Linked DNA regions of Homo sapiens: region 2 is linked to region 1. The links come from fine-mapping of genetic effects on gene expression. A gene starts in region 1. The other region holds a variant in brackets. All regions are shown on one strand. Distances are between the middles of the regions.

The links.
Region 2: its variant is fine-mapped to the expression of PEG13 in neutrophils (BLUEPRINT, PIP 0.95).

Annotation. Positions count from the first base shown.
Region 1 is chr8:140,098,338-140,103,707 of GRCh38, forward strand. PEG13 (paternally expressed 13) reads right to left here and starts at 2,198. Exons shown (of 1, transcript NR_144431.1): 1 at 1-2,198. The region is part of intron 17 of TRAPPC9 (trafficking protein particle complex subunit 9); the gene reads right to left. RefSeq lists an enhancer at 1,455-1,954.
Region 2 is chr8:140,455,084-140,460,453 of GRCh38, forward strand. It overlaps TRAPPC9 (trafficking protein particle complex subunit 9), which reads right to left and starts at 2,661. Exons shown (of 23, transcript NM_001160372.4): 1 at 2,556-2,661. RefSeq lists silencers at 2,206-2,255, 2,366-2,755, 2,846-3,085, 3,206-3,515 and an enhancer at 2,915-3,433. The variant A/G (reference allele first, on the strand shown) is at 2,778.

The DNA.
Region 1 (5,370 bases):
CAGCAGCGGCGCAATCCACAGGGTAAAGAGTCCGCCCAGGTCCTCCGCAGGCTTCCGCAGGGGAGGACACTCAGCTAGGTCTTCAAGCGCGGCTTCAGCAGCACCAGGCGATCCGCAGGCTAAAAACGCCCCCCAGGGTTCTCCGCTGCCATCCGCAGGGCAGGAACACCCGGCTAGGTCTCTGTACAGTTCCCGCAGCACCACCTTCCACAGTATAATGACGCCCGCCCCCGCAGTATAATGACGCCCGCCCGGGTTCTCCGCAGCCGTCCACTGGGTGGGGACACCCAGTTAGGTCTCAGTGCATGGCTTCAGCATCCCCGCGATGCACAAAGTAACGACGCCTCCTCCCTCCTCTCATCCTCTGCAGCCGTCCGCAGAGGACGACACCAGCTAGGTCTCAGTGCGCAGCTGCGGCATTCCTGCTATGCACAAAGTAATGACGCCCACCCAGGTCCTCCGCAGCTGTCCGCAGGGGAAGACACCAGCTAGATGTAAGTGCGCAGCTGCAGCAATCCCGCGATCCACAAAGTAATGACGCCCGCCCAGATCCTCCGCAGCCGTGCACAGGGGAGGACACCCAGGTAGGTCTCAGTGCGCAGCTACAGCATTCCCGCGATCCACAAAGTAACAACGTCCGCCCAGATCCTCCACAGCCGTGCACAGGGGAGGACACCCAGCTACGTCTCAGTGCGGGGCTTTAGCAGCGCTAGGCCATTCACAGGGTAAACACGCCCACCGGGGTTCTCCGTCGCCACCGCAGGGTAAGACACTCAGCTAGGTCTCAGTGCGCAGCTGCAGGAGTGCCGCAGTCCGCAGGGTACTGACGCCCTCCGTGATCCTGCGCAGCCTTCCGCAGGGGAGACACCCAGCTAGGTCTCTGCGCAGCTGCAGGAGTGCCGCAGTCCGCAGGGTACTGACGCTCTCCTGAATCTTCCGCAGCGTTCTGCAAGGGAGACACCCAGCGAGGTCTCTGCGCAACTGCAGTAGTGCCGCAATCCGCAGGCTACTGACGCCCTCCAGAGTTCTCCGCAGCCTTCCGCAGGGGAGACAGGTCTCAGCGAGCAGCTGCAGGAGTGCCGCAATCCTCAGGGTACTGAAGCCCACCCGGGTTCTCCACAGCCTTCCACAGGGGACGACGCACAGCTAGGTCTCAGCTGCTTCAGTATCCCGGGATCCACAAAGTAATGACGTTCGCCCAGATCCTCCGCAGCCGTCCGCAGGGAAGACACTCAGCTAGGTCTCAGTGCGCAGCTGCAGGAGTGCCGCAGTCTACAGGGTACTGACCCCCGCCCGGGTCCCCCACAGCCTTCTGCAAGGGAGACACCCAGCTAGGTCTCTGCACAGCTGCAGGAGTGCCGCAATCCACAGGGTACTGACACCCGCCCGGGTCTCTGCAGCCTTCCACAGGGTAGGAACACCCAGCTAGGTCTCAGTGCGCGGCTTCAGCATCCCCGTGACGCGCAGGGTACTGATGCCCACGCTGGTCCTCCGCAGCCTTCTCCAGGGGAGGACACCCAGCTAGGTCTCTGCGCAGCTGCAGGAGTGCCACAATCCTCAGGGTACTGACGCTCACCCAGGTCCTCCGCAGCCTTCCGCAGGGGAGATACCCAGCTAGGTCTCAGCGCGCAGCTTCAGCATCCCCGCGATCCGCAGAGTATTGACGCCCACCCGGGTCCTCCGCAGCCTAGAGCAAGGGACTGCGGAACGAGTGCCGCAATCTTCAGGGTATTGACGCCCACCCGGGTCCTCCGCAGCCAAGAGCAAGGGACTGCGGAAGGAGTGCCGCAATCTTCAGGGTATTGACGCCCACCCGGGTCCTCCGCAGCCTAGAGCAGGGAACTGCGGAAAGAGTGCCACAATCCTCAGGGTATTGACGCCCACCCAAGTCCTCCGCAGCCTTCCGCAGGGGAGATACGCAGCTAGGTCTCAGTGCGCAGCTTCAGCATCCCTACAATCCGCAGGGTACTGATGCCCACCAAGGTCCTCCGCAGCCGTCAGCAGGGTAGCGACACCCAGCCAGGTCTCAGCGCATGGCTTCAGGAGTGCCTCAATTCACAGGGTACTGACGGTCACCCAGGTCTTCTACTGCTGTATGCAGGGTCGGGACACCCAGCTACGTCTCGGTTCGCGACTTCAGCCGCAACATGATCCGCGTAGTAAGGACGCCTGCCCGCCCAGGTCTTCCATGTACCGCTGCGGCTCTGGCGCAGACTGCAGCGTAAACACCCCTGGTCGTACGTTCGGCCCCGCCCTCAGCCCCTCCCTTCCTGGGCACCATTGGGGCCTCCTTGTTGGCAGGGCTGTGCTCGCACCGGATCCGAAGCGGACTCTGCATTCAGGCTCACGCGCTCTGGAAGGGAAGGGCGCTGGAGATGAGGGTGGCCGTGCGTCTGCGAGCTGTGAAGCCTGTGTTTGTGACTGTAATCTCACTCACGGGTGACAGGGCCCTGAGGATGACTCCGTGTCCTAGACTGCGGGTATTAACATGGGGCCTCTTCCGTGCCTTTCCGAGGCGAAAGCCTGGGTGGGTTCGGAGGCGTCAGCGCTAAAATCCTATAGGCTAAGTTACAGGGCCTTCTCGCTTTATTAACTAAAGGACTAGTAACAGCCTCAGAGCGCTCCCTGGAGGACTATATGTGACGTACTAATTTCTAACAAAAAGTTGAAATTAAGAAATTTTCACCTTTTCATGTTTTTGTACATAGAGTGCTATTTGAACCATTTATGTTTTCTTATTTGTCCTTCCTCTTCTAGCCACAAGCCATCTTTTGGCCAGGCAGCTTTATTCCAAATCAAAATGAGCATATCTTTTTCTTTGAGACGGAGTCTCGCTCTGTCACCCAGGCTGGAGTGCAATGGTGCCATCTTGGCTAACTCCAGCCTCTGCCTCCCAGATTCAAGCGATTCTCCTGCCTCAGCCTCCCAAGTAGCTGAAACTACAGGTCCACACTACGATGCCTAATTTTTGTATTTTTACTAGAAATGGGATTTCACTATGTTGGCCAGGCTGGTCTTGAACTCTTGACCTCAGGTGATCCACCCGCCTCTGCCTCCCAGCTAGAATTACAGGCCTGAGCCACTGTGCCTGGCCATTAAAATAAGCATTTTAAAATACATTTTTAGGTGCTGATCACAGAGAAATATTTGAAAATTCTGGTTACTATGAACTTGGGTTGGTTTTGTAGGGTTTTCTTTTTTTTGTTTTTTTTTTTTTTTTTTGAGACGTAGTTTTGGTCTTGTCACCCAGGCTGGAGTGCAATGGTGCAATCTCGGCTCAGTGCAACCTCCGCCTCCTGGGTTCAAGCGATTCTCCTGCCTCAGCCACCCAAGTAGCTGGGATTACAGGCATGCACCACCACATCCAGCAAATTTTTGTATTTTTAGTAGAAATAAGGTTTCACCATGTTGGCCAGGCTGGTCTCAAACTCCTGACCTCGGGTGATCCACCCACCTCGGCCTCCCAAGCTGGGATTACAGGTGTGAGCCACCATGCCCAGCCTGGTTTTTTGTTTATTTTTTGTTTTTTCCTTTTTTTTTTTCTTTTTGGTAAATTTTGCATGAGGAAAGGAATGTCTTCAGAGTTGGGAAAAATATTTATTTCATGATGTTCTGGTATATCAATATTTCAGTTGCTATTTAGAATGTCTTATCCCAGTTAAATATCAGATTGGCTCCAGAAAATGCATATTGGAGAGTAGTGTGCTTTTTGTTCCATGTGGTTTTATATGCTGTTTTGTTGGTTTGTATTTGCCTAGTTACTAGAGTCCAAACTGTAACAGAATGTAGTTAAAACCAGTGATTAATGTAACTTATGATGCTTTGTAAGAGACAATAAATGTGGTATTTGGGGTTGTTGCTGTGATTACTAGTGCAACTCAAAATTATTGCTTCTCTCAAAGTTTGTAACACTCTGTGTTAACTTTAATTTTTAAAAATATGTCTAATGTGTTTTCCTGACTACCCAGGTGGAAATGAAAGAAAGAGATGTAATAGACTCATGTGAATTTAATGGAAAATCTTAGCCTGGGTCTCAGAGAAATTGAAATTCTTATAGATGTCTTAAGTTGGTATTTGGCACATAGTGCTAGACAATAAATATTTGTCCAATAAATAAAATACCAGCCTCCCCCCACCACACACACACACACACACACGCATGCACGCACACACACAGACATAGACATGGGGGAGAAGAAGACATAGTTTACCATGTTCTCTCCCACACATAACTTCCTCATTGGCTGGTCAACACACAACTCTTGGTTTGGTTTGGTCCTGCCTAGTTCACTGCTTACTTCTGTCTCTATCTTCTGATTAGAGTAGGTTGAAGGGAAGACAGAAGGAGAAGAGACTGAAGAAGTGAGCAGAGACAAGTTTTTCAGGAGGCCGGCCTGCAAAGGCCAACAAGAATGGCAGTGTGGACTCGGAGTACACATGGCTGCCTCTTGCACATGATGCTATCTTGCTGTATGATTCTGGGCAAATACTTTCAAGTCCTGCCTCTCACTCTGTTCACCCCCACTGAGCGAGGGGCTGGGCAGGATAAAGCTCAACCCCCCACATGCCTGTGGCTCCCATTTTGAGGGAGTTGCAAAGCTGAGTGTCTGAAGCGCCAGGATCATGTCTGACTTACGAAGATGAGGCATAATCCTGAGCAAACAAGCACCCAGTGATGAAATGAAGGGATGCTAGAAAGCAGGAATTCCACTAGCAGAAGGAGCATGAAAGACCTGCCGCTCCCCACTCCCACAGCACAGACGAGAGGACCGAGGGATGGGAGGTAACAACAGAGGGTTAGCAGTAGGGTTTCCTCATACTCAGCCTGAGACACCCTCCTTAATTACATCAGCGCTCTCTTCCAGACCCTCGATGACAATTGTTTACGAGCTTCCCTTTTTCAGAAGCATTTTTAGTGCAGCATTATCGGGGCAAATATTTACCTCCCTGTGCCTCAGTTTCCTCATCTGTAAACCAGGACTAGTAATAGGACCCACCTCGGAGAATTGTGAAGATTAAATGACAGAGCTCACGTGAGGCAGCGCCTCTCATCAGGGGCAATTCTGTCCCCAACCCCACCCACAGGGGAGCTTTGGCAATATCTGGTTGACATCCTGGTTGGTACAAGCGATTGGGGCAGGAAGGGACCCTACTGGCCTCCAGTGGGTTGAAGTGAGGGATGCTCCTAAACATCCTATATCCTGTAGCCCCCTCCAACCGCAAAGAATTATCTAGAAAAAATGTCATAGTGCTGCTGTTGAAAAGTCCTGATGTGAAATCTTAGAATAGTGCCTAGAATCTAATAAGTAGCAATGAAGAATAGTTGATACCATATTACTAATGATACCTTCATGACTACAAAGCACTCTC
Region 2 (5,370 bases), 360 kb after region 1:
TGAAAACATGTGTCCACACCAGAAACATGTACAGGAATGTACATAGCAGTATTATTCCTCTTTTTCTGAGATGGAGTTTCGCTCTGTCACCCAGGCTGGAGTACAGTGGCAGGATTTCAGCTCACCTCAACCTCTGCCTCCCAGGTTCAAGCGATTCTCATGCCTCGGCCTCCCGGGTAGCTGGGACTACAGGCGTGAGCCACCATGCTCGGCTAATTTTTGTATTTTCCGTGGAGATAGGGTTTTGCCATGTTGTCCAGGCTGGTCTCGAACTCATGATCTCAGGTGATCCACCCGCCTCAGCCTCCCAAAGTGCTGGGATTACAGGCACAACATTATTCTTGTTTTTTGTTTGTTTGTTGTTTTGAGATGGAGTCTCACTCTGTCGCCAGGCTGGAAAGCAGTGGCGCGATCTCGGCTCACTGCAAACTCCGCCTCCCAGGTTCAAGGGATTCTACTGCCTCAGCCTCCCAAGTAGCTGGGACTACAGGCGCCCACCACCATGCCCAGCTAATTTTTGTATTTTTAGTAGAGAGGGGGTTTCACCATGTTGGCCGGGATGGTCTCGATCTCTTGACCTCGTGATCTGCCCGCCTCGGCCTCCCAAAGTGCTGGGATTACAGGCGTGAGCCACCATGCCTGGCCAGGCACAGCATTATTCTTAATAGCTAAGGAGTGAAAACAACACAAATGTCCATCAACTGCCTGATACACAAAATGTTAAATCTATACAATGGAATATTATTCAGCCACAGAAAGGAACAAAGTGCTGATGTAAGCCACAACATGAATAACTTTAGAGCACTGTGCTGAATGAAAGAAGCTAAATACAAAAGGCCACATGTTGTATGATTCCATTAATAGGAAATGCCCTGAATATGCAAATCTATATATATCGAAAGTAAACCGGTGGCCGCCAGGGGCTGTCGGAGGGGGGAATGAGGAGTGACTGCTAATGGGTATGGAGTTTCTTTCTGGGGTGATGAAAATGTTCTGGAATGACAATGGTAACACAAGTGTGAATATACTAAAAATTACTGAATTGGCCAGGCATGGTGGCTCACGCCTGTAATCCCAGTACTTTGGGAGGCCAAGGCGGGTGGATCACGAGGTCAGGAGTTCGAGAGCAGCCTGGCCAACAGAGTGAAACCCCGTCTCTACTAAAAATACAAAAAAAATGTAGCCGGGCATGGTGGCAGGCACCTGTAATCCCAGCTACTCAGGAGGCTGAGGCAGGAGAATCGCTTGAACCCAGGAGGCGGAGGGTGCAGTGAGCCAAGATCGTGCCATTGCACTCCAGCCCAGGCGACAGTGCGAGACTCCGTCTCAAAAAAAAAAAAAAAAGAAAAATCACTGAATTGTACACTTTAAAGCAGTGGATTTTATGGCAGGTAATCGAGGCTCAATGAAGCTGTTATTTTTGACACACTAGATTTCTGAAACATTTATTGTTTACATGTTTCCGGACAACTGTTTTTCCCTCTACACTACTAGTCCTCCACACAATTAAAAAAACGAACAAACACACACAACAAAACCTAGCCAGATCTTTAGGACGGCAATGTTCCTGGGCCTCCAACATCATCCACCCGGTGCTTTGTTTCAGGTTAACAAATAAAGATGTCATAGGTAGCTATGACTACCTTAGAAACACGGGACAGTCACCAGTTTAAACTGGGGCCGTGAGGGATGGAAGGGAAGTCACTCCCCCATACCTTTCAACTGGGCCTTGCTTCCAGCGTTTTAATTCCTCTCTCTATAGAAACATTTGAAGACAGACAACGCATCCTAACACGGGAAAACTTTCGGTTAACAGACATTCACGTTGGGAAGGTCTGCAGGGGTGGAGGGGATTGGGGTGGGCTGACAGGGAGAAGACCACAGGCCAGTAGCCTGACTTCCTCTCCCCAGGGTTCCCTGGGATAAGTTGGAGTTGACAGCGCGCTTATCCCAGAGAGCACCGCCTGATGCCGCCCAGCTAGATCGCAGGCACTTTGAATCCAGGAGACAGGAGGGAAAGGGCTAGGGGAGAAGTCCGGGAACTCAGGGCGGGGAAAGCGCCGGGGGCGTGGGCTGTGCTGGGCCCCAGGCCCCAGCCGCGCGTCCCAGACCCCGCGGGCTCCAGTGGGCTTAGCCAGGCCCAGGGGCGGGGGGCTCCAGCGCCGCGGACGGCCCGGGAGGGGAAGCCAGGCGGAGACAGCTCGGAGGCACAGAGGGGAAGGGGACCCCCGCCGCGAGCTCGGGAGAGCAGAGCCGGCCCGGGCAGCAGGTGTGGGCCGGGTCCCGGACAGGTGTCCGCCGAGTCTTCAGCGGGTGTGGGACACGGCCTTGGACAGATGTAAGCAGAGCGCCAACAGGAGCAAGGGCGCCTCGAGCAGGTGCACGCTGAACCCCGGCCCGGCAGCGGACCCGGACAGGTGTGGCGGGCTCCGCCCGGACAGGTGAGGGCCGGGCGAGCCCCTCCGCGGGACGCGCCGACTCCACGGCCAGCCGCGCAGCCCTCCCCGCAGCCGGTCCGAATTGCCTGACCGGGAGCCCCCCCGCTTTGCACTTACACAGCCGGTGGCCCCGGGCCCGGAGCGGGAGCCCACGACCTGGCGGGCAGCGGGGCCGAGCAGCCTCTGCGGCCACTTCCCAGGCTCTGGGCTGGCGCTTCCTACTGGCGGCCGAGCCGGCGCTGCTCCTGCGCGTGCGCGGAGGCCAGGCCTGGGCCCCCGATCCGTCCCGGGTTTTGCAAGAGACGCGAGGGAAGCAAGGGGGTAGGAGCGAGGGAGAAA[A/G]GAGGAAGGAGGAGCGAGGGAGAGAAGAGGGGACAGGGAGGGAGGGGACATGGGGAGGGAGGAGGAGGAGGGAGGAGGGAGAGAAAAAGGTGGGGTGAAAGAAGGAGGGAGGAGGAGCGAGGGAGAGAAGCGGGGACGGGGAGGGAGGAGGAGGAGAGTAGGAGGAGGAGGGGTGAAAGAAGGAGGGAGGGGCAGCGAGAGAGAGAAGCGGGGGACAGGGAGAGGGTGGAGGAGGGAGGAGGGAGGGAAAAAGGAGGGGTGAAAGGAGGGAGGAAGAGGAGGAGGGAAGGAGGGAGATGGAGGGAGATGGAGCGAGGAGGGAGGGAGGGACCGGAGCAAGAGAACAGAGACTAGGAGGAAAGCTTCTGCACCTGGGGCGGCGCAGCTGGAAGGAGGCCCAGTTCTGTCCCCGCCGCTTACCAGTCCTTCAGGGCGCGCAGCTCAAATTTCACTTCCTCTGTGAAGCTCAGGGGTGGAGGCCCCGCGGAAGCCCACTGTGGATCCCTGCGGCACCCCCTGTGACCCTCACGGTACCCCCCGTGACTCCCACGGTCGTGCCCCCCACGTGGGTGGGTGACCGTGGCGCGCGCGGCCTGGGAGCGCCTCCAGGATCGCAGGGCCCGGGAGGCACGTGAGGTGCGAGCCCCAGCCTGGGCCGGCTTCCCCCTGTGTGGCGCGCGGTCTTGATCCCCAGCTGGCACCATGGCACTCCCGACTTTGAGGGCCCCAACAATCCATCCACATAAAAGGTTCCAAAGAGGCGACAGGGGCTAGGACAGCTGTCGTTAGTTCAGTGCCAAGGCGCCAAGCTTGCTAAGTGCGGGCAGAAGCCATTTAAGGATTTAAACCCCTCTGGGTTCAAAAATAAAATAAAATAAAGCAGGAGATGGGGGAGGCTTACAGACTTAAGATGCCCAGCACATGAATTAACAGTGGCATCCGCAGGGAAAATTGAAAACAGAGAGCCGCTCTCCGTTATGTATGTTTAATGTTCTGTTTGAATCTTTTAACATGTACATGTATTTCTTTTTCAATTAAAAAATCCTGGCCAGGAGAAATGGCTCACACCTGTAATCCCAACACTTTGGGAGACTGAGGCGGGTGGATCACTTGAGGTTAGGAGTTCAAGACCAGCCTGGCCAACATGGTGAAACCCCGTCTCTACTAAAAATACAAAATTAGCCAGATGTGGTGGCGCGCGCCTGTAATCCCAGCTACTCAGCAGGCTGAGGCAGGAGAATCGCTTGAACCTGGAAGACAGAGGTTTCAGTGAGCCGAGATCATGCGATTGCACTCCAGCCTGGGCAACAACTGCAAAACTCTATCTCAAACAACAACAACAACAAACACTAAAAAGGGCTGGGTGTGGTGGCTCACACCTGTAATCTCAGCACTTCGGGAAGCCAAGGCGGGTGGATCACCTGAGGTCAGGAGTTCAAGATCATCCTGGGCAACATGGTGAAACTCCAGTCTCCACTAAAAATACAAAAATTAGTTGAGCGTGGTGGTACATGCCTGTAATCCCAGCTACTAGGCAGTCTGAGGCAGGAGAATCTCTTGAACCCGGGAGGCGGGGGCTGCAGTAAACCAAGATCACACCACTGCACTCCAGCCTGGGTGACAGAGAGAGCCCATCTCAAAAAAAAAAAAAAAAAAAATCCTAAAATGGAAAAGTAAAGAGGACAGGAGTGGTTTTCTCAGCACATACAGCAGCAAGGGAGAAATGGTCTGAGCCAGCATTTTTCCTTTCAGCCAGCAGGCACTTACCCGCTCTGGGCTATGTGACCAGGGCTGTTTTATTATCACATGTGTTATAAAATAAGATACTATCCCTCATCCCTGCTCAGGGCTAGTGGAAAACCAATTGAGTTTTTATTGAATTATTTTCTACAGAGTCAGAATGAGTTATAAATAAAACATATCTTCAGGGCAAAACAAATAGAGCTGATTTCCAGCCTGCCAGACAGCCAGGAAGTTTTCAACAGAGGTGCCCAGGGGCTGAGGAAGAGTGTCTCCCTGACAACGCACAAGCTGCCCAACGTGGCTACCTCATGGTGTTACGACCGCATGGAGGCCGTGCAGTGGCTCACAGCTGTAATCCCAGCACTTTGGGAGGCCGAAGCAGACGGATTGCTTGAGCCCAGGAGTTTAAGACCAGCCTGGGCAACACAGGGAAACTCTGTCTCTTGGAAAAAATACCAAAATTAGCTGGGCAGGATGGCACAAACCTGTAGCCACAGCTACTCAGGAGACTGAGGCAAGAGGATCGCTTGAGTCCAGCCAGGTCGAGGCTGCAGTAAACCATGATCACTCTAGCCTGGGAGAGACAGCAAGACCCTGTCTCAAAAAAAAAGTGGTTTTTTTTATTTTTTTTAAATGAATAAATAAACAAAAGAGCGTATGGGCTTAACAGAGAATACAGAAAAGATACATTTAAAAGGCCACTGCTAATGGAGGTCTGAGTGCAGAAACTAGGCTCCAAGCTTACCTCATAAGATCCAAGCAAGGGAGCTATTTTTAGTGCTGAAGTCCAGAAAGGATACCCTACTTGGCTGGGGTCACACAAATGGCTGGTGCTATTTAGGGATTCAAA